Linked DNA regions of Homo sapiens: all the other regions are reported to be linked to region 1. Evidence: microRNA targets listed by miRTarBase, many of them from high-throughput screens and not tested one by one. Region 1 holds a microRNA gene; each other region holds the end of a gene's coding sequence.
Evidence for each region. Region 1 holds the annotated microRNA hsa-miR-8058 (CUGGACUUUGAUCUUGCCAUAA, at 2,887-2,908, opposite strand). A microRNA usually pairs through its seed, bases 2 to 8, with sites in the 3' UTR of a target mRNA and lowers its output. Matches are read on the target gene's strand: a 7mer-m8 pairs with bases 2 to 8, a 7mer-A1 pairs with bases 2 to 7 and ends in A, and an 8mer does both.

Region 1 (7,168 bases):
GGTCTCGGTAAAGCCTGAGGGTTTGCATTTCCAGCAAGTTCTCAGGTGATATTGCTGCTGCTAGTCCAGCATCATCGAGATCCCAATTTAAGAACCAGTGCCTCCTTATTAACCCATGTCAGAATATTGAGGGGAGACCATCTTTCCTGATTTCTCCCTTCAACTCTCCATTAGCCTCTTCTGAAGCCCGAGGAAAGGTTATCACAGTCAGCTTCTGGAAGTCACCATCCCTAATAGTACAACAGGCTTATAATGTATTTTCTTTGCTTGCCTTTCCCCAGAGTGGATCTATAAGAAGGACCTGGATACAGGTAGTTTATTTGGAAGACAATCTCCCCAAGTAGTAAGTGAGACAGAGAAGGAGAAAATGTCAGTAAAGGGTGCATTAATGAGTAAGGTACTGCCGAAGTTAATGGCACAGGCCTCAGAATTGTCCCACCAAAGGGCAGGGAGGCTGGGACACCCATTCACCAACTTTCACCCCTATAGCTTGAAGATTTTTCCTGGGTATGGATTTTGCATCAAGTCCCACCTGCCACATGCTCAGGCTATGCAAGCTGCTACTGGCTGCTGAGAATTCCCCAAAGCAGGAAGATGCTGGCAGCCATTGGCATATAGGGAGACTGACTGCAGGTGGCCTCTGAGGTGCACAGTACCTGATGCATAGTAACTAACTAACAAACACTTTGGTCTTCCTTTCCTCACTTGTAGGTAACACCTCCACGAGGGTCCCTGAAGGTCCAGACTTGTTCATTTGGCTGATTGTTATATCTCTGAGTCCAGTGCAGCGCCTGGTACACCATAGATGCCCAATAAATATTTGCTGAATGTGTAAATGAATCCAAAATCTAGGTGTTTCTCTGCATGTCCCTCACTGGCTCTATTCTCCCATTTCCTATGTGTCTTTATAGACATTGGCTGGCTTTCCTCTCAACCTTTACCTTCCCAGCTAGATGACTGATTCTTTATCTGCCACAGGCAACTAGAGCGTTCATCCTCATCCCTGGCTCTGCTTCTGGTCCATGATGGGACAGGCAGTTGCGGGGTTGACAGTCAGCTCAGCCGAGGCCAGGCTGCGTCAGCCAACACCCAGGTGACTCCCAGAGGTGTGAGCAGGTTGTGCCAGGCCAGGTGTGCTGCATGTGCACACATGCATAAGGATATCTACCATGTTTCTTTTATTCATGAACAACGGTGGGCATAGTGGCTTCCAGAGCACAGTAGTTCTGCTTCATTACTGTGGGTACAATGGTCACCTATATGAAAGGCTTTGGGCATCAGATTTTTTTCTTAAGTGTCTCTTTGCTCATTCTCACGAGATGAACTCTTCTGCCCACGAGGCTGTGCTAGGGCCCTGTGTATTTTCTATCCAGAATAGCTTAGGCTAATCTACAAACTTGTGTGCTTCCTCTTCTGGATCATCAATAAATGTGTAAAGACAGACCAGCCCTAAGATTATTCCACAGAGAACATGACTCTTAGATATTAATTTTTTGTTATTTTTGTGTCCAAGCCAAGTTCTTCATTTATAGCTAAATATTAAAATACAACTAAATATTTAAAAATAGCAATGCTTTAGGGTTGACACATTTCCAAAGCTTTCTGGTAGTCTACACAGTATATGCCCACTGGTTGTCTCACCATTCTTCTTCATATTTATTTCCCTCCACCAACCCCACCCCAGCCACCCACCCGGGGTCATGAGAAGATTTTTTTTTTTTTTTTTTTTTTGAGACAGAGTTTCTTGTTGCCCAGGCTGGAGTGCAATAGCACAATCTTGGCTCACTGCAACCTCTGCCTCCCAGGTTCAAGCAATTCTCCTGCCTCAGCCTCCCAAGTAGCTGAGATTACAGGCATGCAACACCATGCCTGGCTAATTTTTTTTTTTTTTTTTTTTTTTTTTTTTTTTTTTTAGTAGAGATGGCGTTTCACCATGTTGGTCAGGCTGGTGTCGAACTCCTGACCTCAAGTGATCAGCCCACCTTGGCCTCCAAAAGTGCTGGGATTATAGGCGTGAGCCACTGCCCCCAGCTATGAGAAGATCTTAATCAGGCACAACTTACTGGGACAGAAATGCATTACATCTTCTTCAGAAGCTATGTTTGCTCCAACCTGTGGTATCTGCCCTTTCAAGCAGACAGCCCAGTTTGTCCAGAATGTAAATGTGAGGCCTGGCACTCTGAGGACAGGAGTCCCTTTACAATACTTTACAGAAACGGGAGGGGGCTATGCACATCCATGATCCTGATTTATGTTAAACATTAGGGCATCAAACACATTTGCCATTTGCAGCAACATCCCAGAAAACAATCTTCAAGTGTAGAAGAAATATGGCAGTGACGGAAGTCACTCCTGTCATCCTCGAGCCTTCAGGCAAGGTGGCCTCAAAAATAAACCTAGATTGTGAGATTCAGTTTGGAAGAGACTTGAAAACCCACAAAAAATCCAATGTTATGTAAAAGGAGGTTACTAAACTGACTATGATAATGATAGTCTTAATAATGGACCCAAATGATAACATTGGCTTTCTGTAAGAGTGGATGAATATGATAACTAACAATTTACCTACGGAATACATTTTTAATAGCAGTGATTCATACCTGCTGAGAAAGCCATTCCCACTGGAACCTGTATGGGCCCATTTCTAATTCAGATATTTTCTGCATCCTACCAAGTAATGTCAACTGCACAGTTTGACAGGCTGGTTTTATCTTGAAAAAAAAAAAAAAATGTTTGGATGCAGGCAAGTTAGAAGAATAAACCTGAGTAAGTGTGTTAACCCTACTAGAAAAATACCCATTACTTTATACATGTTATTGCCCTAAGCATGAAGAACACAGCTGGTGTGAAAGACAGCTGACCTAGTTCTTAAATGGAGGCATACCATTATGGCAAGATCAAAGTCCAGGTGCCCTGGTTCTCCGTGGGGCCTGGATCTTTAATGTCTCAGCACTGGCAGTGACCAGGAAGCCTGACCAAGCCCCTCTCTGGGTCCTATTTGGTCCCTTTTCCAAGAAGCAAATTGGTCACATGGTTACCCTGTTCCCTTTTCTTTCCATTCTCAATCTGCCTGGTGACCAAATCACCAACCCAGGCCTCTCCATTTTTCTTACCTTATTTTATTGCTTTGTAAATAACAATAACAACAAATTCCTTAATATTGAAAATATATTTTTTAAATGAAGGTAAGAATAATTGAATGCTCACTTGATCATCCTCGGATCTTTATTTCTTGTTACAAACAATATCAGAACCATCCCAAAATGGTTCAAAAGAAGCATGTCATCAGATGAATGATGTTTTCACTATTACACTGTAAAATATGTTGTCATAGTTGATGTTTTATTCAATAAATATTTCTGAGTCTCCATTGATGGAAAATGCAACCAGAGAACATGAATTCTGCTTTGATAGACTTCAGAGTCTTGAATGGTGATGACCAGGGCTGAACTTGTGAGCTTCATTATTTGATTTAGTGCATAAACATGCCTGTGATCATGGCTTCTTTTTACAGCTGAGGAAGCTGAAGCTCAGAGAGGTTTAAAAGTGAGCCTAAGGCATATGGTTTGCCTTAGCGCTTTTGTGTATTTAGGGGCTTAGATTTGTAGATCAGAAACCATGTTCCCAGATACACATGGAGCCCAGCAGGGCATTCGAGACACAGCCTGGAAGTAGCAGTTGCTGCCAGGCTATACCAGTGTTGGACGAGATCTCTTGGCTGGTTCACTTGAGGCAAGAGCCAAGCAACTACCCTGTGGTTACTTGTTTAGAGATTCCAGGACAGAAACCCCAGTAACCCAGCTTCACAAAAAGGTAAAATCACAAACACTGTTGTCATTTCTGCACTTGAACCATTGCTGCCATATAGATCTGTGATCACTGAGGGCCTACATCTGTCACTGCCATGTTTCATTGTGGCAATGGACAGTAAAAGTTGTCCTACGAACGCGGTCCCAAGCATGTCTGAGTCCAAGGAGGTGCCTTGGATCCCCTTGAAGCTCCTTACTTAGCATCCCTGACGGTTTGCCCTGGCTCTGCTCCTACCCCCGAGGACAGCCAGTTTGAAAAGAGACTCTTGCTGGGTCACCATGTTAGGATCTACCAACTTTGATAGAATGAGATCAGAATGGAAGGCAACCATATTCCAAATGATATCTATCCCACTGATATGGCTTGGCTCTGTGTCCCCAGCCACATTTCATCTTGAATTGTAATAATCCCCACATGTCATGGGAGGAAGTGGGTGGGAGGTAACTGAATCTCGGGGGCAGGGTTTTCCCATGCTGTTCTTGTGATAGTGAATAAGTCTCACGACATCTGATGGTTTTATACATGGGAGTTCCCCTGCACATGCTCTCTCTTGCCTGTCACCATGCAAGATGTGACTTTGCTCCTCCTTCACCTTCTGCCATGATTGTGAGGCCTCCCCAGCCATGTGGAACTGTAAGTCCATTAAACCACTTGCCTTTATTAACTACCCTGCCTCAGGTATGTCTTTATTAGCAGCTTGAGAACCGACTAATACACCCACATAGACCAGTAAAGTTGTCCTCCAGCTGATATCACTTACATCTTGCTATAAATTGGAAATAGTAACCCCACCACCACCCAGTATCCCAGAAGTTAAGATTTAGTTACCCCTTGTGCTAAACCCTGCCTCCTCCTTTACACACCTTCCATCACTGTTCACAGGCACTGACCTTTCCCTGACACCAGCTTCAAAGCTACCATGAGAGAGGACTTGGCCTCTCCATCTTAGGTAAACAGATGACCTGCAGCCCTGAAATCCTAAACGTAATGGGTAAGACTCAGTTCCATTCCCCTCTCTGCCCATTTGTACAATGTCTGAGGCAGATTCCTACATCTACGAAGGGAGAGAAGCAGTGGATTTCCCATACACAATCTTTATTGAACGAAGCAAGAGCTTACAAATGTTGAGCTCTCATTTCTAGCATTTTGATGAAAAACAGACAATGTTGTCTGTGTAAGAGAGATCCAAGGAAGAATTCTCCTGTTGTAGCTTGAGTAAGAAGTCGTGTTCCCTGTGTTGTTCCACATGGTGGGGGTGTTATGGCCATGGGTATTGATAATACCCAAAATGATTACTCAACATCAACTCTCATTTATAAAGGCTCTTCTTGATCACTCTATTTCCCCTGTGCATCAAGCAACATTCTGGGTTGTCAACGGAAGGAAGAAAGGCCTGCACTAAAATCTTTCATGCACGTTATCTCCGGGAATCATAACAATAATCATTGAGGAAAGGAATATTCTCATTTTTAGAGCTGAAAAACCGAAGGCCAGAGTGATTAAATAATGGACTCATCTTCCATAGTCAGTGAGCGACTGGCCTCGTTGTTCTCTGGCATATTCTGTGACCCATGCATCGCACTGCTGCCTCTGGGAAAAGCCGAGCCTGCATTCTTTAGTTCCTCTCCCATACAATCTCCGTTGACACCAGTAACCAATCACACAAGGGAAGCTGGCACCCAAATGGATGCTAAGACCCTCTGCATTTATAAGTGTATTGATCCTAACTGGTGATTGTGTTCTAGTCTCTCATGGCTCTCCGCAGAACCAGGAGGAGACGAATTCAAAGATCTACCACTGCTAAGGTGACTTCCTGTTCTAGTTTCAACAGGAAAGTCCTGATTTACTTTCAAGAGTATTCTGCTTTGAATTAGAAATTGTATGATCACTCTCTCCAGACCCCACAAACACAAAACACATGTTCTCTGCAAATGATAACCCTGTATTTTGATAATTAAGATGAGGATGCATTACCCAAATTTCTGAGAAGGGTGTGGAAGTGGAGCTAAGGGTGATTATCATTTCTACTTGCAGTTGGGAGAAAAAATTGTAATTCACTAGGGATAATGCAGAAGAGAAATATGGTACTCTTTCCTACCTTAATTATCAGCTCTCTGTGCCTATTCATCATGATTTAACCACTAGAGGAACCATGATATGTGGGTGGCGGCCATTCCTAAAGGGAGCACCTGAAAACCACGTATCAAAAAGAGGACTGTCTCTGCTTAAAACAAAGGTTCTGTTTTAAGACCTCTGAAGTGGCATCTAAGCAGAGTGGAACATTCTAGACTTGGTTAAACCTCTCCCTGGGACACAGGGCTGAGGGCACATAGGAAGAGATAAAAGCCAACTGAAGCGAAAGCTGCCTGAGCCAGGCGGGGTTGAACACCTGCTGGCCCCCTCACAGACTGCAAACTCTGCCTTGTGTACAAAGCACACACACAGAGCACATGCACACACACACATCCACACATGTGCAAGTGCACACACACAGGCACAAACACATCTTTCTTAGCAGCTAATAATTCTTTCTCCAGATGTCACTTAATCACCTACACCTGATCTCATTATCTTTGCTACAGGCTAAAGATTTATTCCCCCCAACATCCATATGTTAAATGTCTAACCCCCAAGGTGATAGTGTTAGGAGGCAGGGCCTTTGGGAGGTGATTAGGTCATGAGGATGAGCCATTATGAATGGGATTAGTACCCTTATAAAAGAGGCTCCATCCAGATCCCTCATCCATTCTGCCAAGTGAGGACACGGCTAGATGGCACCATGGATGAGGAAAGCGGGACCTCACCAGACACTAAATCTGTTGGCGCTTTGATCTTGAACATCCCAGCCTCCAGAACTGTGAAATGAGCATTCATTGTTTTTAAGCCACCTAGTCTATGGTATTTTTTTATATAGCAGCTCAAACAGATTAAGATCATCTCTCAACAAAACTGAAGTATTTTTTCCCCTCATTGGATCATTTCTCCCAGAAAGGCCTTGCCTGGCAATGTCTGCGCACTGAGTTATTGCAGGTTTACCGGCCAGACACACATGTTGCTCCACAGCAAACACTGTCTCAAGTGGTGCCCACCTTGGCTAAATTTCCCAGCTCCAAGAATACTACACATTAAATAGGTGAATTTACTCATTTTCAAGCGACTACTTAAATGTGATTTATATTTCCTCAAAGAATACCCAAGTTGTTTGTCCTCCACCCTTATCTTCCTCAGCTCTCAGAAGGAGGCTGTGGCCTTAAGAAAGCACAACTTGGGTATGGGCTCTGAGTGGGCTCAGGCTATGCCTGCAAGTCATGTTTGCAGAGGATAATTCTCAAATGCCGTGCTTTCTGTACCTGACCTG
Region 2 (7,168 bases), not on the chromosome of region 1:
TAGGGTGTGAGAGGGGTGGCATCAGCAATTCACGACTATTTTTTTCTCTCTTCAGTGCCTCTTTCAGGGATATGAAATTAAAATGAGGTACGAGGAGTGCTCACTTGATTTTTGGTTCTTAGGAAGTTAGTGGATTGCTTGTGATGTGCACCACATTTTGGTTTAATGTTTATCCAATAATAAAACTGTTTTCTTTCTCTTCTATCTTCGTAGAAAGGCTTTCTGGGTTGAGAGGAGATTTGTTTAAAATTCGATTTGTTTCCCAACAATACCTCTTCTTTCCTTCCTTCCTAAAGTTTTTACTGAGCTAGTCTGTATCAGGTATTATCCCTACCTTTTGTGAAACACAGAACTTTCTTCCATACCTTTCTAACCTCAATTACTGTCACCACAAAACACAGATAGCTTTGCTAGGAGCATGTCGTTGGTAAGGGAGAAGCAAAATGTTGACTACAGTTAACTGTGGAAGTAATGTTAATTGAGTATTGGAAGACAACATTGTATAAAGTACTCTTCCTAGATTCTAGACATCTCCAACTAGAATCTACAAGAGCTGCTGTACAGAGAAGTAGGTTACTACCTAGAGGGAGACGCCGGGTGGTGGGAGGGTGTGTTTGCTTTGCTTGTTTTGCATTTTGTTCAATAGTGGGAGTGACTGAGCATTTTTGAATGTAAGAATGTAAATTACTTAAGCCACTATGGAAAACTATTGGGAAATTTATCAAAGAACTTAAAACAGAACTGCCATTCCACCCAGCAATCCCATTACTGGGTATATATCCAAGTGAAAATCAATTGTTTTACCAAAAAGACCCACGTACGTGTGTGATCATCACAGTACTATTCACAATAGCAAAGTCATGGAATCAATCCAGGTGTCCATCAATGGTGGATTGGATTTAAAAAAATGTGGTACATATATAACATGAAATACTATGCAGCCATAAAAATGAGTGAAATAATATCCTTTGCAGCAACACATATGCAGCTGGAAGCCATTATCCTAAGCGAATTAACAAAGGAACAGAAAACTACATTCTACATGTTCTCATTTATAAGCAGGAGCAAAACACTGGGTATTCATGGACATAAAGATTGGAACAATAGACACTGGAGACTACTAGAGTGGGGAGGGAAGGAGTGGAGCAAGTGTTGACAAACCATTAGGTACTATGCTCACTACCTGGGTGATGGGATTGTTTGTACACCAAACCTCAGCATCACTCAATGTACCCAGGTAACAAACCTGCACAGGTACCCCCCTGAATCTAAAACAAAAGTTGAAGTTATATATATAAAAAAACAAATGTTGACAAGAAGGAATAAGAAGCTGGTAGACAAGATTGAAGAAACAGGTGATAGAACATTTATGAATTAAATTCCCTGAAGAGGTGGTAACAAATGGGATTTGCCTCAGACTGAAGGAAAAATACCTCTTCAACTGAGATTGGAGATGGGAAGAGAGCAGGTTGAGCAAGAGTCCAGAAAATTGCAGATAGCTGGCATTTAACCTCATTTGGGTTTTGGTGATCTAGACCCTGACATCTACTACCAATGCCACTATTAACACACACACACACACACACACACACACACACACACACACACAGAAGCAATACCATGCCATTTTCCTTCTTGCATTTGGATTAGCAATTGTCTTTCATGTATAGTCTTGACCCAGTCTTTATTCTCAATATCTGGCTGTGGACCTGCCAGTTTGGCCCCTAACCCTGCAGAACCCCTCTTGCCTCCCTTCTCACACCACTTGCTTCCTTTCTCTTTCTCCACCATCAGATAACTTGCAGAGACACATACACATATGGATGACACAATTCAACTGAAAACTTAGGGGCTTTTACAACTTGTTGATTTTATTTTAATCATCACTGTGGAAGATTTAACCTCTACATTGTTAGTCATTTCTCAGCAGCCATACCTCTGGAGACAGAAGAACTTTTTGAGAGGTCTGTTCTTCACTCTGCAGTCACAGGATGCACACTTCACTCGAAGAAAACCCCAGGTTTTCTTAGTCTTAGTCTCCCTGATTTTGATTCACTTTCTCATTGGGCCTGTAATAATGACCGAATAGTTTTGGCCTTTGGCTGATGTAGGATTGCTTCAAGAGATGGTAGTTCTTAGAGATTTTTCTCTTGAACACCCTTGAAAAACTACTGGCTACTTTTACTTTTATGATTATCTCCTGCACCTGGTAGGGAAACAGGGTGCTGTCAGGTCCTCTTCCCATAAGGCAGTGATTTAGGAGAAGAGAATGTGAAATGCATAGGAAGGAGGGTTTACTGAACCTGGTTATGGGCTGAGGAGGGGATACATACCACATAAGGTTAAGGTAGGAGTCTTGGAAGTGGTAATATAGTTAAGGGGACAGAGAAAGAACATGGGCAGCTTGATCTGACCTTGCCACTGTCTCTGGACTTGAGTTCATATGGGATATTCATTCTTCTTTCCTTTGGTGTCTGTGGTTGGTTGTTGCATGTCTGGTGTTGGTTGATCCATAGCTGTGTTAGGCAACTCCGGTTTGCCAGTTACCTCTTCCATGTTGATGTCAAGCAGTAGTATAGCCCGGGGCCCCACCCTCTTTATGTATACTCCCTCCCCCAACATGTGGGTATTACAATTTGGATTACAATTCAAGATTAGATGTGGGTAAGGATACAGAACCAGACCATATCAGTATGAAATCATGGTATCTTTGAATTTATATGGCAGAAAACATGTGCATTTACCATGAGCTTTCTGAGGAAAAGTCAAGATATAATATTTATAGTGAATAGATACCAATTCAGCCTCTGTATTCAAGACTGTCTGGGTTTGAATCTCTATTTCACCGCTGGCTATGTGGCCTCCATTTCTCATTCCCTAAGGATGCTGATAGCAAAACTACCAGAATCATAAGCTTTTTATGAGGGTTAAATTACCTTATGCATATGAAGTGCTTGATATTTAGGAAATGCTAAATAAATGTTAGACGTAATTATTTGAAAATGTTAGATATCATTAGTATTATTAGTAGTGTTATTCACATTTAGTGAAGCATTTCAAGGCAAAGATATATTCTTCATTTAAATGTGCATTATTTTATTTGTTTATTTATTTATTTATTTTTTGAGACAAGGTCTCACTCTGTTACCCAGGCTGGAGTGCAGTGGCTCACTCTTGGCTCACTGCAACCTCCTCCCTTTCGACTCAATTCTCCTGCCTCATCATCCTGAGTAGTGGAGACCACAGGCACACACTACCATGCCCGGCTATTATTTTTGTATTTTAGGTAGAGATGGGGTTTCGCCATGTTGCCCAGGCTGGTCTCAAACTCCTGACCTCAAGTAATCTGCCCACCCCAGCCTCCCAAAGTGCTGGAATTACAGGCGTTAGCCACTGCGCCTGGCCAAAATGTACATTGATTTAAAGTTTACTAAAGTAAATTTATCTTTTGAGGTCTTTTAAAAATTAGGCTGTTTCTCAAAGAACTTAAAATAGAGCTACCATTTGACCCAGTAATCCCATTACTGGGTATATACTCAAAGGAAAATAGATCATTATATCAAAAGACACATGCACTCGTGTGCTCACCACCACACTATTCACAATAGCAAATGCATGGGATCAACCTGGGTGCCCATAAATAGGTAGATTGCATAAATAAAATGCGGTACATATACACCACGGAATTATATGCAGCCATAAAAAACAATGGAATTATGTCCTTTGCAACAACATGGATGGAGTTGGAGGCCATAATCCTAAGTGAATTAATGTAGTAACAGAAAACCAAATACCAGATGTTCTCATTTACAAGCAGGGATTAAATAGCACAAATGGACATAAATGTAGAAACAATAGACACTGGAAACTACTAGATGGGGGAGGGAGGGAGGAGGGCACGGGTGAAAAAACTACCTATTGGGTACTAGAATCACTATCTGAGTGCAATATATTCATGTAACAAACCAGCACTTGTACCCCCGTAGCTAAAATAAAACTCGAGAAAAAAATTAAGGTTGTGTAAAATGAAAATAATAATATAATTAAGATCATTATATCTACTATCTATGCCTAGAAATTTTTTTGAGTAAATAACATCCTCAACTTTTTTGAGTAGATATCAGCCTCAGCATTGTATTAAACTTTCAACTAGAGAGACTTATTCCATTATCTTGGATATTTTGGATGTTTTTGCACTTAGATTAATGTGCTACATAGACCCAAACATTTAGCAATTACATCTAAATTAATGGAATTAGGTACTTGGACATCACATTTAAAGGGTGTTTCTTTAACTAGCTCAAGATTATATTTTTAGTTATAACCACAGCTGGGGCTAGAACCTTATATAATATGAGTCACTATCAGTGTTTTTTTCTCATCACCATGCTACACTTCACTGTCCATGCTTGTGCCATCATTCAGCAAGTATTTACTAATTGCCTGTTGTGTGTCAGGCTCCATGCTATTTCCAGATGATACCACAGCAAACAAGTTCAAATCTGAACTTTCAGGAAATTAGCAGTCAAGCTACCACACATCCTTGCCACTGTTCAAGTTTTTATATAACATAACTCTTATTTTTCAAATGACATCAAGCTTAAAAAACCCAACAACCTTCTCCTTTACACCAGGGAAATATGGTAGCAAGTGTTAGACATTTTGATGTAGAGAGTAACAGGCATGGTGAGATATTCACACCCACAGGAAAGAGCTGTAGCGGGCAAGGCCCTCTGAGAGCTCACTAGATATCACCAACAAAAGCCAGATTGATAGCAGAAGAGGTATAGAGATTTGTTTAAGGGGTGTATTTGGGAGCCTTCAGAATGAAGACCCAAAGATACAGGGGAAATTGTGCATTTTATGCCTAGGTTTAAGGAAGTATGGATAGAGGCTCAGAAATAGGATTGGACAAAAAGGGTATAAACTAATACTAATGAACTGAGTGGGGAAACACAGAAAGGCCTGTATGTCTAGATTATTCTTGGCTTCTTTGAGCAGCATTCTTCCTTCTGGGTGTGGGGCAGGGACCCCTCTGAAATGGGGGCCTTCTGACCTACAGTCAGTTTCTTTATGGCTAGTTTTTACACGGAAAAGCGGAGTGAAAATGAGAGTAATATTTTTAGCTTTTTTTTTTTTTTTTTTTTTTTTTTAAGATGGAGTCTTGCTCTGTCACCCAGGCTGGAGTGCACTGGTGTGATCTGGGCTCACTGCAAGCTCCGCCTCCTGGGTTCACGCCATTCTCCTACCTCAGTCTCCTGAGTAGCTGGGACTACAGGTGCGTGCCACCACGCCCGGCTAATTTTTTTTTTTTTTTTGTATTTTTAGTAGAGACGGGGTTTCACCACGTTAGCCAGGATGGTCTCAATCTCCTGACCTCGTGATCCACCCACCTCGGCCTCCCAAAGTTCTGGGATTACAGGCGTGAGCCAACGCGCCTGGCCATATTTTTAGGTTTTATTGCTGGCTTTGGGGAAAATATGGTTTAGTTTCTATGACACACCTTGGGGAAGAAGGATTCTAGTTTCTATAGCTAGCCTTGGGGGAGAATGAGACTGAGAGACAGGAGGGTAGGAGAAGATTAGAGAAAGACTTTTGCTCCTGAGGTCTTCATTTTGGGGTACTGTTTTCCAAGCTCCAAAAGAGCAAAATTACAGTTGATCATTTTGTAAACAGCTTTTCCAGGACAAACTCATCCACATCAACTGCCTAAGGGAGTTTATGCCACTTTCCCCTAAGTTCCCTACTGTGGTCCTACTAATCATAGGTATGGCACTCAAAAAGTGTAAGTCTGGCCTGATTCCACATGACACCATATCAGAGAGTTGAAGAAAGACAGTATGATCTCTCCTGAGGCTTTTGCTTCTCTGAGTTCAGTGTTCTCAATATATCGTCCATTTGCTTCACCAGATCCATTCTCCACTCTACTTTGTGCTGCTAAAAATCTACTCATATAAACCATGGACTGTATTAATAAGCTGTCTTGTTCTATGGCTTCGGGTTAGTTTTAGTGAATGGTAGGTCCCTGCAGATCACTGGAGAAGGAGGAAAATGAAATCAGAATATTTATTTATCTGGCTCCTTCCTTGGAGAATTTCTGTAATTTCTGAAATTTCGATTTCATTTCTTGACCTAGATGATCGCTTTTTCTCTAGGTCTTCATCCTCCTGTGAAGATCCTTCAGGTAATTCTACGTCTTTATCCTCCTGTGAAGATCCTTCAGGTAAGTCTAGGTCTTCATCCTGCTTTGAAGATCCTTCAGGTAAGCCTAGGTCTTCATTCTGCTTTGAAGATCCTTCAGGTAAGTCTAGGTCTTCATCCTGCTTTGAAGATCCTTCAGCTGAGTCTAGGCCTTCAGGTAAGTCTAGGTCTTCATCCTGCTTTGAAGATCCTTCAGCTGAGTCTAGGCCTTCGTCCTCCTCCTCTTGGACTGGATTGATGGAGTTCTCTCAGGACTGGTCATTCTCCAGTTGATTTGAATGTATTTTCTTAGCTTTCCTGTAGCAAAACGCTAATACTGTTGAATATTCTGACGTTTTCATCTTTTTCAAACTCGGTTCGGGGGCTAAGTCCCTGTTTGGTGTCTCCTGCATCTGTTAAGAAAACAGGGAGAGGCCAGAAAGACATTATTTTGGGTGAATAGGATAGAGACTGGATAGCAAGGGGGGCTTTATGAGAAGGAATGCAGGTGGAGGAAGGGGTGTGTGCCAGAGAAGAACAAGGTTGAATCATAGGGTAGGGATCTATGGGGAAGAAGAAGAGGAGCATGGGTAGGGTCACCTGTTAGTCCAAAGTGCACCATTTTGTAAGTTCTTTGCCATTTTGCAGACCTTGGTCAAAGTGAAACATCCCATGGGGGTTCAGGCCGTGAGAAACATCCTGCCTAACCACCTGTCCACAAGGCGGACAAAGGCCCAACTAAAGAAACATCCCTATCATATCTTGCTTGGCAAAGTTCTAAGGAACACCACAATGATATTCCACCAGAAAAAGGGCCAAACCACCTGATCATAAGAACATCTTATCAATATCCTGCCTGGCAGCAAGCCATACTGCCCAGATCCCTCCCACCCATACCTGTAAGTACCCCAGGCTGTAAGCAGTGGTGGGATCTGGCATTAAGCTGTTCCCCCACTTCCACAAGTTTCTGCAATATTCCTGTGTTGCT
Region 3 (7,000 bases), not on the chromosome of region 1:
CCAAACTGCTAACAGCACTACTATACTAATCCTTGGGGAGGAGAGTGAGGTTCGGAAATGCTCAAGAGGCATTTTTCCATATCCGCATTTTGTTTGTTGTTGTTGTTTTGTTTTGTTTTTTGAGATGGAGTCTTGCTCAGTCGCCCAGGCTGGAGTGCAGTGGCACAATCTCGGCTCACTGCAAGCTCCGCCTCCCGGGTTCACGCCATTCTCCTGCCTCAGCCTCCCAAGTAGCTGGGACTACAGGCACCCGCCACCACGCCCGGCTAATTTTTTTTGTATTTTTAGTAGAGATGCAGTTTCACCATGTTAGCCAGGATGGTCTCTATCTCCTGACCTCGTGATCCACCCGCCTCAGCCTCCCAAAGTGCTGGGATTACAGGCGTGAGCCACCATGCCTGGCCTGTTTTTGCTTTTGTTTTTTTGCACGTACCACATGTAAGATAAAATAAGTTTTACAAATAGAATATGTTTCTCAAAAGGAAGCCCCTGCTTAGAGTCAAAAGTGTGCACGCAGGCTGGTACATTTCAACATGTGTTTAACCAGAGTCATCATCATCAAATAAGGAAGGCATCGAGCTGGGAAAGCCAACCACAGAAGCTCAGCCCACGGTCTTTCTCTCTCTCTCTCTGTCTGTACCACACAGTGCCTGAGGAACCAGCGGTCAGTGGGCTGTGAGCGTGGAGGATGGACCTCATCCACACACACCCCAAAGGAGTTTCTAAGGAATGGATCCTTGACTTCAGACTGTGAGATCTTTTCCTCCAGGACTCTCCAGAGGCAGGTCCCTGGCAAATGAACAAGAAAAAAAAAAAAAAAAAGTCCAAAATTTAGGCAATCCAAGCTGCACAGCCGGATCAGCCAAAGTCATTGATTTGTAAAAATGAAAAGAAAACAGAAAAAAGAAAAATGAAGTCTCACTGTCTCAGTTTAGCGAATCCCGTTGTGTCCACTCCTGTCCTCCAGAGGCGAGCCTCAGGAAATCACATAACTTTTCACTGAGGGGATCCAGGGGGTCTCCATATAGGGGGAGATGGAGGTTTCTAGGAAGAGCAGCAGGTGCTGGTATTTACAATGTTGAGCACAAACATTTGCAGCATGTTTAAAATTGTCTAGTAGAGTTCAAGTTGTGGATTTGCTTTTCCTTTTATTCTTATAACCTTCAGTAACTCCTCCTCTGGGAGTCAGCACTCCCATGCCCAGAGTTCACCCATCTGGTCATCAAACACTCAAAGAAGGGGCTTTTCTGGCCTTTTGTCTTGATGCTTATATTTCCAAATAGGCCCCCTCCCTTGCTTGCATCCACGTTGGTCAACTTGACCAAAACCTCACTCTTCACTCAAACAGGCTCTGAGAATGGACTTAGTGGCCAATTCTAGGTACATGAGCACTTCCTGTATCCCAGTTTTGGGAATAAACTGGCTGTATTTATAGAATGTGCTTTTTTTTTTTCAATTTCTCACTCTCTCTCCTATCTCTAGCAAGTCTCAGGCAAGATCTTTGATTTTCCTGGATGCCACCTGGAAATGCCACCCATTGTGTTTCTTTTCTGTCAAATGTAAACCCTTTAGATGTGAATGTACTGGTTTAATGATGCCATTATTCTGCCTGCCAGAACGCAGTAACCCAGTGTCTCACAGAGCACAAGGGGTGTGCCACTGGTGGTACACAAGATAATTTTTAAGTAGTTTCTAGGAACAACATTAAGTAATACCAAATCACAAAGAATGTTTCCCCTTTTCTATTCTTTTTTCATCCTGATTACAGCAAGGAAAAAGTCTCTGTTTAGTGCTAGCAGGTCCTTTACACCTTTCAGACACTATGGCTCTTTTCCCTTTTTAGCAAAGAAAGAGCAGGCCTCAGAGTCTTCTGTCTAGATAGAATTTAATGATATTGTTTTGTGTCATGGTATTTATTTTATTTATTACCTTCCATTTACAGCTTCCCACAGTGGGGGATGTGACATATTGTTTCTGTTCAAATAAATTAAGAAAAACAAGAGAACTCAAGAAAATATCAAGTAATTAACACACCAGATAAGTATATGTGGCAAAAGTCACTTCAAAGAATTAATGTCAGAAAGATGGTGATAATGAAGCAAAAGAAAGGCAGATTATGCTGGCCGGGCGTGGTGGCTCACGCCTGTAATCCCAGCAATTTGAGAGGCTGAGATCACTTAAGGTCAGGAGTTTGAGACCAGCCTGACCAACATGGTGAAACTCCATCTCTACTAAAAATACAAAAATTAGCCAGGCGTGGTGGTGCATGCCTGTAATCCCAGCTAATAGAGAGGCTGAGGCAGGAGAATCACTTGAATCCAGAAGGCGGAGGTTGCCGTGAGCTGAGACTGTGCCACTACACTCCAGCCCGGGGTGACAGAGCAAGACTCCATCTCAAAAAAAAAAGAAAAGAAAACGAAAGAAAAAGAAAAAAGAAAGGCAGATTATTCTAATTGAATGAATAAGAGGCTGAGAGTCAATACCTAGTTCCAACGCCCTTTTGTTTTTGCAGGGTTTTTATTGGCCACTAACTAGCTATGCAAGCTGATTTTAGGCAAGTTTCATAGCCTCTCTGTGCCTAAAATTCCTTCACCTGCAAAATGGGGATAAGAATGCCTGCCTACTTACCTCACAGTGCTGTTATGAGAATTAATTGTTGTAATAGTTGTGACTAACCATTGGCGGGGAGAATTCTAAGTACTATACCAATACAAATTTCAGCATTTTTTCATATACTGAACCCTAGCAAAAAAAAAAAAAATTCTGATGAACATCAGATTCAACCTGTCATTTTACCCGGATGTTGTGATGAGCCAGCACTTGTCCCAGGAGGACGTTGAATCAGGGACACGAAATCTCAGCACACAGAGATTCTAGCATCATTCCAATAGATTGGACCCTGATTTCTGTTTCTGACATCCTGTTTTTTGTTTGTGCGTGTTTGGGTCCCTGGTCTTTTACCCAAATCAAATGAAAAGTGTTGCTCAGAGGCAGAATAAAAATGGTTTTAAGTAAGCCTGTGTACCACAGTGTGTGAATTGTGTTTTCTTGGGGTTCCCCACCTTCCAGAGATTTCCGTAACCAAAATAAGCTCATCTAGTCCAGCATCAGTCCCCAGGGAAGAGCCCAGAGAGGCCAGAGGTGGCGCTAGAGAGGCATCACTCTGAACTAATTTATGGCCAGAAATGTCCCTCTATGAGGCACTGAAAATGTTGGTCCTATTAAAGTAAAAAAATAAAATAAGAAAAATCTTGTCATTAAATGTGCTCCTTGGGGTCAAGAGGGCCACTGATTTTTGTTGGGCGTCCCCCAGGTCCTAAGCTCTAAGAAGGACAAAATGGTTTTTGTTGGGATGATGGGCTTGTCCAGAGCTTCCTCCAAAGCTAAGACTGCCCCTGCTCCACTCGCAAAAGCACAGTTTAAAAAGAGATTGGTGGCCGGGCGCGGTGGCTCACGCCTGTAATCCCAGCACTTCGGGAGGCCGAGGCAGGTGGATCATAAAGTCAGGCTAGCGAGACCATCCTGGCTAACACAGTGAAACCCAGTCTCTACTAAAAATACAAAAAATTAGCCGGGCGTGGTGGCGGGCGCCTGTAGTCCCAGCTACTCGGGAGGCTGAGGCAGGAGAATCGCTTGAATCCGGGAGGCGGAGGTTGCAGTGAGCCGAGATCATGCCACTGCACTCCAGCCTGGGCGACAGAGTGAGATTCCGTATCAAAAAAAAAAAAAAGGTGTATTATCAACCAAGAGACTCCTTCATCAGCCAGTTACAAAAACTGGCTAAATAGAGCAGAAAAAGTAGAGTTTACCCTCACAAGACGGAAACTTCCAGGGATAGCTTCAGAGGCAGCTGGATCCTGGTGCGCAGGGTTTTTGGGAACGTGTCCCTTTCCAGGTCTCAGCCCCAACTTGCTGAGTTCATTTTAGTTTAATAGGGACAATACGACTGCCAACAGCTTTGGACTTTTTCCTACCAGCCTGTGGAAAGACAGTGTTTCTTCCCTAATAGCTCCAGGGGGGAAAAATGGTTCAATTCAATATAATGAACAACTGATACAAACCAGAAACCGACCTATCAAAATGGATACCAGTCATTAACAAACAGGTGTGGCCACTGTACCAACATAAATGGATGCTGTGGCCAGGGGTGTGTGGTGCCCTCATTGGCCAGGCTTGAAGTCAGGATTCAATCACTGGAACTGAATGTGAGGTCAGCTCCACTCAAACCTTATAGATTGAGGGTGCGGGAAGGATGGTTCCCCAAAGGAAAACCAAAGTACTCTTACCAGAAGAAGGAGAGAGATTTGCTAGGCAAAAAAACAAAAACAAACAAACAAAAAAAACAGCGTCCATATTAAGCATGCTGCTTCTTACTATACCTTCCATATGCAGGGCAAAGTAATCTAATGGCTTTTCTTTTTCTTTTCTTTTTTTTTTTTTTTTTTGAGATGGAGTTTCACTCATTGCCCAGGCTGGAGTGCAATGGCACGATCTCTGCTCACTGCAACCTCCACCTCCCGGGTTCAAGCGATTCTCCTGCTTCAGCTTCCTGAGTAGCTGGGATTACAGGTGTGCACCACCACACCTGGCTAATTTTTTGTATTTTTAGTAGAGACTGGGTTTCACCATGTTGGCCAGGCTGGTCTCGAACTCCTGACCTCAGGTGATCCACCCACCTCGGCCTCCCAAAGTGCTGGGATTACAGGTGTGAGCCACCACACCCAGCCTCCTCATAGCTTTTCAATTTCCCCGTGGTGTTGTCACTTTCATCCAGCTCCTTCTCTGACCAGTATTTATAGAGCACCTGCTCAACCACAGAAACTGGGCTGGTGGAAATTCCAGAATGTTTAAGAGAGACCCCTGAGAAGGTGGCAGTAGTCTAGTGGGGGGAACAGACACACACAAACAATGAGAAGGAAACATGAGAGTGCCCAGACAGAGGCATAAACAAAGTATTGTGCCATCACTTTGCAGGAGAACACACTGGCTGTACTAAAGGGAAGGAAGACAGTCCCTGTCCTACCATTCTTCGCAGTGCTGAGGCCAATAGGGCTACAGCTCTTGAAGTTGCCCTGTCTCTGCCCACAAGTTATGGGCAGAAACAGATGCAGATATAAAATCGCTGGCCTCAGCTCCTGGATCAGCAAATTACCTTTGGCCTACAGCAGGACAGCTGCATTCAGCAAAACAGCATGATGCACATATCTTGATACGTAACCCTAGATTCAGGCTTCTAAATATAAGAGACAGTTCTGGGCCACCAATTACCAAAAAAAAAAAAAAAAAAATCTTGTAAGATAACGTTCATACTCATGGGTTACAACCAATTCTTAAAAAATACTCACGAATATTGAATATTTAAGTCTGGGGAATTGCCCTATAAAAATATGTCCCTGCACCAAAACACTTTGAATTCTGGTTTGGACAAGCACAAAGAGAGGCAGGCATAAAGATGACTCAGGCATCACCTACACTTGCTGGAGAAGCCACAGAAAGAAGGAATTCCCTTTCCAATACATTCATTCATTCATTCCAGTAGACATCTATTTATCAGGGGTCAGGAGAGGGAAGTATGAAGTTGCCTCTGTGCATTGCCTGCATGAGGCATCAGAGAGTTTCATCTCGAGTACCTGTTCCAAACCTCGGGTGAGCAGCCAGTCAGACCTGCAATGACCCGGTCACGGCGTTCATCTCTCTTCCTGTCCCAGTGTAGAATTTCCCAGTTTGCACCCACACTGGTTCACTGATGCACCCAAGCTGTCTGCTCCTGGAACTGTGACCAAGTGTTTACTCCCCCAGGTCACGTGGAATCCCATGCATGGGGACTAGTTGTACTAGTTGTACTAGTTGGAGTGAAAGTATTGGGAGGAACTCATAAAAGGCCAAATTCTGCCTATATAGAAATGGCCTGATCACCCCCAAGAAAGAGGACCTAAAGCACGCCTAGAAGGGAAGGTAAATAAATATTTCTTGAGCCATTACCAAAGCTCATCTAAACAATTACAGTAGCTTTTTTTTTTTTTTGAGATGGAGTCTTGCTCTGTTGCCCAGGCTTGAGTACAGTGGCATGATCTTGGCTCACTGCAACCTCCGCCTCCCAGGTTCAAGCAATTCTTCTGCCTCAGCCTCCCGAGTAGCTGGGACTACAGGCTAGCACCACCATGCCCAGCTAATTTTTTGTATTTTTAGTAGAGACGGAGTTTTGCCATGTTGGCCGGGCTGGTCTCGAACTCCTGGCCTCAAGTGATCCGCCCACCTCGGCTTCCCAAAGTGCCAAGATTAAAGGCATGAGCCACGGCACCAGTCCTACAGTAGCTTTCTTACAGGGCTCTCTGGTATAACAACCATTACAAACTTAATGAGTTAAAACAACCCAAATTTATTATCTTGCAGTTCTGGAGGTCAGAAGTCTAAAACGGGTCTTGCTGGACCAAAATCAAGATGGCGGCAGGGTTGGATTCCTTTCTGGAAGTTCGTAGAGAGAATCCCTTTTCTTGCCTTTTCCACCTTCTAGAAGCTATCCACATGCCTTGACTCAGGGCCTCCTTCCATCTTCAACGGCAGCAAAGTCACCATTTACTTATTTATTATCTTCTTTATTATCTACCTCCTCCCCTTAAGATGCCTTTTTCACACTGCATCTCTTTTGTTCTGACTCCTTTTCCTCTCTCTTCCCCATTTAGGGACCCTTGTCATTACTTTGGGTCCACCTGGATGATCCAGAAAAATCTCCTTATTTTAAGGTCAGCTGATTAGCAACCTTAATTCCATCTGCTCCCTTAATTCCTCTTTACCATGTAACCCAACATATTCACAAGTTCCAGGTGTTTGTATGGGGATATCTTTTGGCGAGCATTATTCTGTCTACTACATCTTGCTTTGACATCCATTCGCTTAAAAAACACACACAGCAGCCAGGGTTATCTCACAACCTAGACTTAATCACATCATTCCTCTGCTGAAACCCAACCCACACACCCAGTGACCACCCACGGAATTA
Region 4 (7,168 bases), not on the chromosome of region 1:
CATGCCGTATTAGACTGAAATGATGTTTGTTATCTGTCTACCCCCACAAGAAGCAGTCAAGCATAGTGATTAAAAGCATCAACTCTGGAGCCAAACTGCCTACATTTGAATCCTGGATGTGTGACCTTGAGCAAATTAATCTATAACTCAGTTTCCTGATCTGTAAAATGGGGATAATAATAGCACCTATCTCATAAGGTTCTTGTAAAGATGAAAAGAATTTGCATTTGTGTCTGTATAGCACTCAGAATAGTCTCCAGCACCTAGTAAACGTGATATAAGTATGTTAAATTATAAAAATGTCCTTGAAGACAGACACAATGTCTTGCTCATCTTTATGCTCCCTCAATGCCTAGCACTCTGTAGGCACTGAATAAATGCTTAAATGTTTACTGAACTGACAGCTATTACACTAGTCCAAACAAAAGGATTAGTGCCCAAACTAAGATAACAGGAATGGAGAAAGGGTGATAGGTATGAGACATGCTTAGGGGGAAAATAAATCAACAGAATGTGCTGCATGATTAGAATGAGATGGGTCATAAAGAAGATAAAGTTCAGGTTGACAGCTAGGTTTCTCACCAAGATAGGGAATATAAGGGAAGCAAGAAGGAAAAAGCAGAGTTCCTGGCAAATTTTTAATAACAAAATGCTTCATTCACTGCTTAATGAAATTTAAAAGTGCTTTAAGAGCTTTTAAGAGCACCACACTTTTAAAAAATAATGTGAACTCTGATCAACCATGACAGAAACCTGGCACACAACATCAGAAAGAATTTAAGCTCCATGAAGACACGGACTTTTTCTGTTTAGTTTGCTGCTTTATTTCTAGCACCTGCAACAGTGCCTGATACATGGTAGGCACTTGTTATGTATTTTATAAATGAATGAAAAAATGATTAAGGTAAATTTGTGCCTTCTATGTCATGCAAATCTAAAGGAATTAAATAAGCATCTACTGAATCCTGCACTGCTTCAAATTCCTATAGGGAATACAGAAGAAATATAATACTTTTCTATCTCCCCTTCCCTCATGAATAAATTACTGTTTTATAAATTATATTTACATAGTAACTTACTATGTAATGCAGTACAAAACATAGCTAATTTCTGAAGAAAGATCAGCATACGCCATATATATACATATGTGTAATATATATATATTACACATACATACATAGTATGTATATTATATATATAATACTATACAGCCCTGAAATATGGGCAGGGTTTAGATTCTGTAACAATACATCTGATGTAATATGAAAGGTCACACACACAAAAAAACAAGAACAAACTTTGGTAAAGTGGGGATCGACTCTAGAAAAGCCAGATAGAGATGAAGAGCAAATATAATGCCAACTTTCTCTGAAGTCTTTCCTTATTTCCCCCATTCCTAAACATAATTAATTGGTTCCCTTCCCAGAACTCTGAACGTTATTGTGTCCCTTCTGTTAAAGCACTTATTCCACTGAATCATTACTACTGGTATATATACCAATTCCCCTGGCAGACTCTAAGCTACCTGAGAACAGGAATATGTTATTTGTGTATCCCACATGCCTGGCATAATGTCAGGCACATAACAAACATATACATGTGGGGGTAAAAGAGGGAATGTATATATTTTTAAACAGTCACTAGATAACTTTGTAGGTGTCAGGGTACAGGGATAACATGAAATAGATTTAAAGATTTGCCTCAGATTTTACTGTAGTTTTGAGTCTTATGGAAACTAAAACTAGATAAATAAAACTTCATCTCCAGAATCCAAAAAACTTGATTGAGCCTCAAATTATAAGCTTTTTATCTAAACATTCAGACAGTGTTAAAAATATGTTTTGCAGGTTTATTATTAACAATCTTTTGATACAGACAAAAGTTGAAATTATAGAATCTGAAAAATCAGGCAAAACAAAGTCTTAACTAAAATCCATCTTTTTTACTGTGATTCAAAAAACAAAAGTAAGAATTTATATTGAGGAAGATCAGTGTACTACAGGAACATGAAAAGGTGTCTCAAGGCACACAGGAAAAATAGGTATTCTGAAGCCAAGAACATTCTACTCACTTGAAGTAAGCCCTTCAAAACTCTGGTATGAAATCTCTGTCCATATTATGTGCTATACTGTACAAAGTATACTGATAACAACCCGATAAAAAGGAAAACATTTTAAACTAATGAACCATATGACCTGATCATATGTTATCGTATAGTCTTCCAGCTAGAAAAACAAATCTCAGAAGTAATCCATTTGCTTCTATACAACATATTTTAGACAATCTTCAACTAAAACTAAAACCACGCTTTCTCAACATAAAAAGCTTTCAGCTAAAAAATCGTGAGGTGTACTTAAAATCTAAAAGGAACATATAACACGACTTTTTGGGTGCTTAATAACCAGCAATATGCCTCTCTCTAAAACAGTCTAAATCAGCTAGAAAAGTAGCACTGCATTTGTAGCCAACAGTGATCATAATTAAGCTAAAGAAAGACATGTTTTTCTTGTCATCTTTATTCAAGTATTTCACAGCAGTTATATTACAAATTACAGTAAATGTTCAAATTCCAGAATTCAAAAATTAAATAATTTACTTCAACTAATGTCAAATGAAGTCAAATGCAAAACATCAATTTAACACAATTCTAAATTAAAACTACAAACCCAAAATAGACCATAGTTGATGAAGTCTACTTAAACTACAAAGTAGACATACATGACTGAAACCAAATTGGACTCCCAAAGTCTAAGTAACCAGATGTACAGAATACAAAAGATGCAGGTACAAGCCCAAATTCAAGCTTACAATGTGATTACAAATAATAATTATAATAACAATGGCATTCAGCTACGGGACCTGACACTGAAGATACCTACTGAATAGCACCATAGCTGAACCAACTTAATCAAAAAAGGGAAGAAATTACCCACTCCCTAAAAATAAAATCCAGTAAACCTACAAATACATTGGCTTATGAGAAAAATCAAGTCATGAAACAACATTAAAAAAAAAAAATCACAGGTGAGATTCAAGCTCGAAAACACAATTAACTCCACAGCCATCAGTTTCAACCCTAGTGCGGTTCCATCATCTTCAAAAAGCCCCCAGGGTCCCCACAGCTGAGCATGAATTATTGCTGAGCTATGCTGTGATACATATTTTACTCATCTGAGAGCAAGGTTTTACATAGGAGCTTATCTTTATAATGCTCACAATAGGAAATAAGAACAGAGGTCAATTTGTACATATTTTTGCCAATGCTATACAGCAAAAATGAAAAACTTACAGAAAGGTAAACAAAATTGAGTCCACTTTTTTAATTTCACAAGCTGCTTTAAACTATAGAACCACCAGATATCTGTAAAATAAGCAAAACTGGTAAGTGTGTTTTTTTAATTGAGGGAAGGAGGGCCAGAGGAGTTGGTACAATTTCAGCTCATTGTTCTCCCCTTGGCATTAGATTGACTTTCTCTTTAAGACCTAAACTGTTCAAAGTGGCAGTTCCTATACTGAGGTTGCCTCCAATTTCTCCATCTACATTACGGTTAAAAAAACAAACAAACAAAAGCAACTTGATCTTTTGGAAGCATTTTAATGCTGAAAATAAATACATTTCCCTTTTCAAACTCACTGATGGCTAAAATCTTAATTAATTGTACAAATTTAGTAACCTACTAAGAAACATGTGCATTTTTTTTTCCTTTCACAAGTGCTGCTGTTACTTGAAAAGAATGCTTCTGAATTAGAATAACTGGAATAAATATTTAAAAAAAAATAGTGCAGCAAGAACCTGAGACTTGCAAAAAACCCTTTTACCAGAAACTTGCTACAAAAAATCTGCTACATCTTATTTCATCAAATCTTTAAATTCTGTAACAATTTCCATCAAAATACAAAATGCTAATGTATTAGACAATAAAATAGTTTGAATCGGTATGATGGTAATAAATACTAAAGAAAGCATGAAAATCCTCCCAATAATCAAATTAGAGGTTTCAAATAACCTCCCCTTTAAAATGGTTCATCGTTAATCGCACTTGCCCACCTTAAAAATACAGTGTGTCTACATGGGTAGCATCTTGACTTGTATGACTAACTGGATATTACAGAAACTTCACAGACTAGGTACAAAGAAAACACGTGGCATTTAAAAAAAAATTAAGCTAGAATTAGAAGGCGTTAGATGTAAATGTAAATGCAAAGAAGCACTTTGGATTACTGCAGTAGGCTATGGCCAAAGTATGCTTTCTGCACACTACAAAGAGCCAAAGACAAGGAGACAAGTACCTTAGCTTCAGGATGTAAACGGTGGCAAAGTGATTACAAGACTCTGTAAACACTGTTGGTAACTAAAATACAAAAAGCTGAGGTAGCTCAGAATCTCTGCAGTAGTCCAAGACCATTCGCCCTAATTAAAACCCAAACTACATGTGTTGCATATATTGGAAAGACACACCTGCAGCTAACGGCTACAATGAATGAAGATACCAAGCCAACTTGCTGGCAAAATTTTCTTTTTGTTTAAAAATCATCTGATAAAAAAAGTCACTGCATCCTTTGCCTCATTGCAACTGCCTAGACTGTGTCTCCAAATTTGTAGAAAGTTTTTGTAAAACTAGTAACCCATAATTAATTTCAGATACATACAATTCACAGAAATCACTCAACAAGATTCAAAATGGTTTCCAATCAAAAAGAAGAGTTGTGAAGGTAAGCTTAGGAGATGGGATTTAAACATTAATACTGTTATTCAAGGACCATACCAGAGCTCGTTTGCAATTAAGCATACAGAAAATGAATTTTATGGAGCTTCTGATGAATTCCTCTCTTTTCTGTCCATTTGGCAAGTCCTGGCTTTAAAACAAAACAACAATTTACTACATATGAAAACCATTTTTCTCTGGGAACTCAAACATGAATAACTATTAAATTGCCACTGACAGAAGAAAAAATGGCCACTATCTATTTATTTTCTAGTCATCATTGTTGGCAATACCAAAACGTGTGCAGTTTTGTTTTTTGTTTTTTTGTGTGTGGACTGTGTATTATTCTTTGTTGTTATTCATGTTTCTTAAACCAAAACAGACCTTACAAGAAAACTTACCATTTTAGTATATTATGTGGCTTACTGGGTGTCTTGATTGAGCTTTGAGAATAAGACAGGCATTTCATACCCAAACACTGGTTGTCTCTTAATGACATAGAGTATCAAAACTTATTTTCAAGGTTGTGACCAAAGAAATATTTCTAATTTATTTGCTTCAAACAGCCCATCCTTTTAGCCTTATCTTCCTCAAATGAATAAAAAGGCACGTTAAAGGCAGTTCTAAAGAGCCTGACCTAATTTCATCCAGTTTCTTCAGCTTCCCACCAGAACAGACCATAGCCAACTCTAAAACAGGTTTCAGTCCATTACCCAGATGGGGGAAAAATATGATTAAAGGGGTAAAATGGAGGAAAAAAAAATAACAAGTTGCCCACTGTTTAAACAATTCAACACAGTTAGAACTGCCCCCATCCAGTTTCCTCCTGTTTGCTGGTCTGCTCCCTAAGAGAGGAGTCTCCAAAAGAGAGTGCACAAAAAGAGGAGCAGAAGCGAGAGCAGTTTCTGTAGCACCAAAATCTCCAAGCTGTGGGGTTGTATTTTTTATTTGTGGAAAATACAACATGTTTCTGAAGTTCTGTTTGGTTCTTGTAGGCTGGTTGGTTTCAGGTACCTGAGACAATAGCACCAAATTCAACAGAGAGAAAGAATGAGTGAGAGAGCACTTTACACCAAGGCTCTGCACATAATTGGTGCAATTTGAAATTGAATGGCTCAGAAGACTGCTCTGTGAGGAGCAGATTGGAGAGGATAAACCACTCATCTTGAAAAGTTCATAGGAATGTCTCAAACATATGAACTGTTCTTTCCATCTCCTATAAAAGGAAAAAAAATGCATGTTATCTATTAAGGGAAAGACAAAAGTGTTCCTCATTACGGAAGAATTCACTTTAAATTTTTAGGGAATGAATTTGAGATACAGGTTAAACTTTGAATATTTTCCTGATTATAATACCATAGGTAATTAAGACTATCTCCCCTAGATACTTCCAAGTACCTCCTATTTTATATTTAGGCCAATAAGGATGATGATGATGGTCACACTCAACAAATAACTAACTTATTATGCCAGTAATATCAGTATGAGGTATGATATGAGTAATATGAATATAAGGATGATGATAGCAACACTTAATGAGTAAGTTATTATGCCAGATATTTACTAAGAGATTTCTATATATAAAATACATAAATATAAGTAAATATTTATATTTATATGTATGCATATATATATAATTTATATATATAGTTTTAACTCCCATAACATTGAAGATTGAACAAACGTATTACTATCAGGTCCATTTTACAGATAAAGAAACTGAGGCACAGAGGGGATAAATAATTTGACAGCTAACAGGTGGCAGTCAGGATTTGAATACAGGCAGCCTCACTCCAGAGACTGAGCCCTTCCTTCCTCATTATATTTCACTAACTCCCAAAGCAAAATGAATGCATTCAGTATAGTGAAACTTATGCCAAAAAGCAGAATGCATTGTGTTCCCACTTCTATTCACTCCAACCAGAGCTGAAAAGACAGGGTTAAAAAAGAGCCAGAATGAGTGGCTTCCATCACTACCACCATGAAAGCCACTCACTGCTGATTCTGTTATCAATCCCTTCCCTCCCTAAACTAGGCCTCTAGATTATTAGGATTCCACACTGAGATGTTTCACTGGTGAGGAGTATTTAATGCATTCAAGCTAATAAAACTGCAACCATATGAACAAAGAAGTTCTAGAATTAAAAAAAATGTGAATAACTCTACCCCGCACATTTTATTCAGGTGGGCAAATGTCAAATACATCTAAGACACTTGCATTTTTTCCTTCCCTTTAAACAGCTCCAAAGAAATTCTATTCTACATCTCTGCAAAACTAACAGGCTGTATTAACAGATCATCATCCGATCAACAAGTTCTTCCATGTGGCCAACAAAAATCACTCCTGCTAAATGTTTTATCATATATTGCCAAATAAGAAAAGAAAATTACACATGAAAAATAACTATATCCTTTACATATAAATCTTTAATATACTAAAAATATTCTTTGAGAGCAGAGAC

Region 2: the mRNA of SPANXN1 is a reported target of hsa-miR-8058. Seed matches in the 3' UTR shown: 7mer-A1 at 6,426-6,432.
Region 3: miRTarBase lists TMEM233 as a target of hsa-miR-8058. Seed matches in the 3' UTR shown: 8mer at 821-828.
Region 4: the mRNA of ATAD2B is a reported target of hsa-miR-8058. Seed matches in the 3' UTR shown: 7mer-A1 at 2,734-2,740.

What each region holds. Positions count from the first base shown.
Region 1 is chr16:82,684,728-82,691,895 of GRCh38, reverse strand. MIR8058 (microRNA 8058) reads right to left here and starts at 2,965; the gene lies at 2,877-2,965. The region is part of intron 1 of CDH13 (cadherin 13); the gene reads right to left.
Region 2 is chrX:145,255,096-145,262,263 of GRCh38, reverse strand. It overlaps SPANXN1 (SPANX family member N1), which reads right to left. Exons shown (of 2, transcript NM_001009614.3): 2 at 6,056-6,593. The coding sequence ends at 6,450. Among named protein-coding and RNA genes, the nearest start is that of SPANXN1, 11 kb to the right of the region's middle.
Region 3 is chr12:119,640,052-119,647,051 of GRCh38, forward strand. TMEM233 (transmembrane protein 233) reads left to right here. Exons shown (of 3, transcript NM_001136534.3): 3 at 648-3,024. The coding sequence ends at 654. The region is part of intron 1 of PRKAB1-AS1 (PRKAB1, TMEM233 and CCDC60 antisense RNA 1); the gene reads right to left. Among named protein-coding and RNA genes, the nearest start is that of PRKAB1-AS1, 25 kb to the right of the region's middle.
Region 4 is chr2:23,746,166-23,753,333 of GRCh38, forward strand. ATAD2B (ATPase family AAA domain containing 2B) reads right to left here. Exons shown (of 28, transcript NM_017552.4): 28 at 2,499-5,922. The coding sequence ends at 5,881. Among named protein-coding and RNA genes, the nearest start is that of ATAD2B, 180 kb to the right of the region's middle.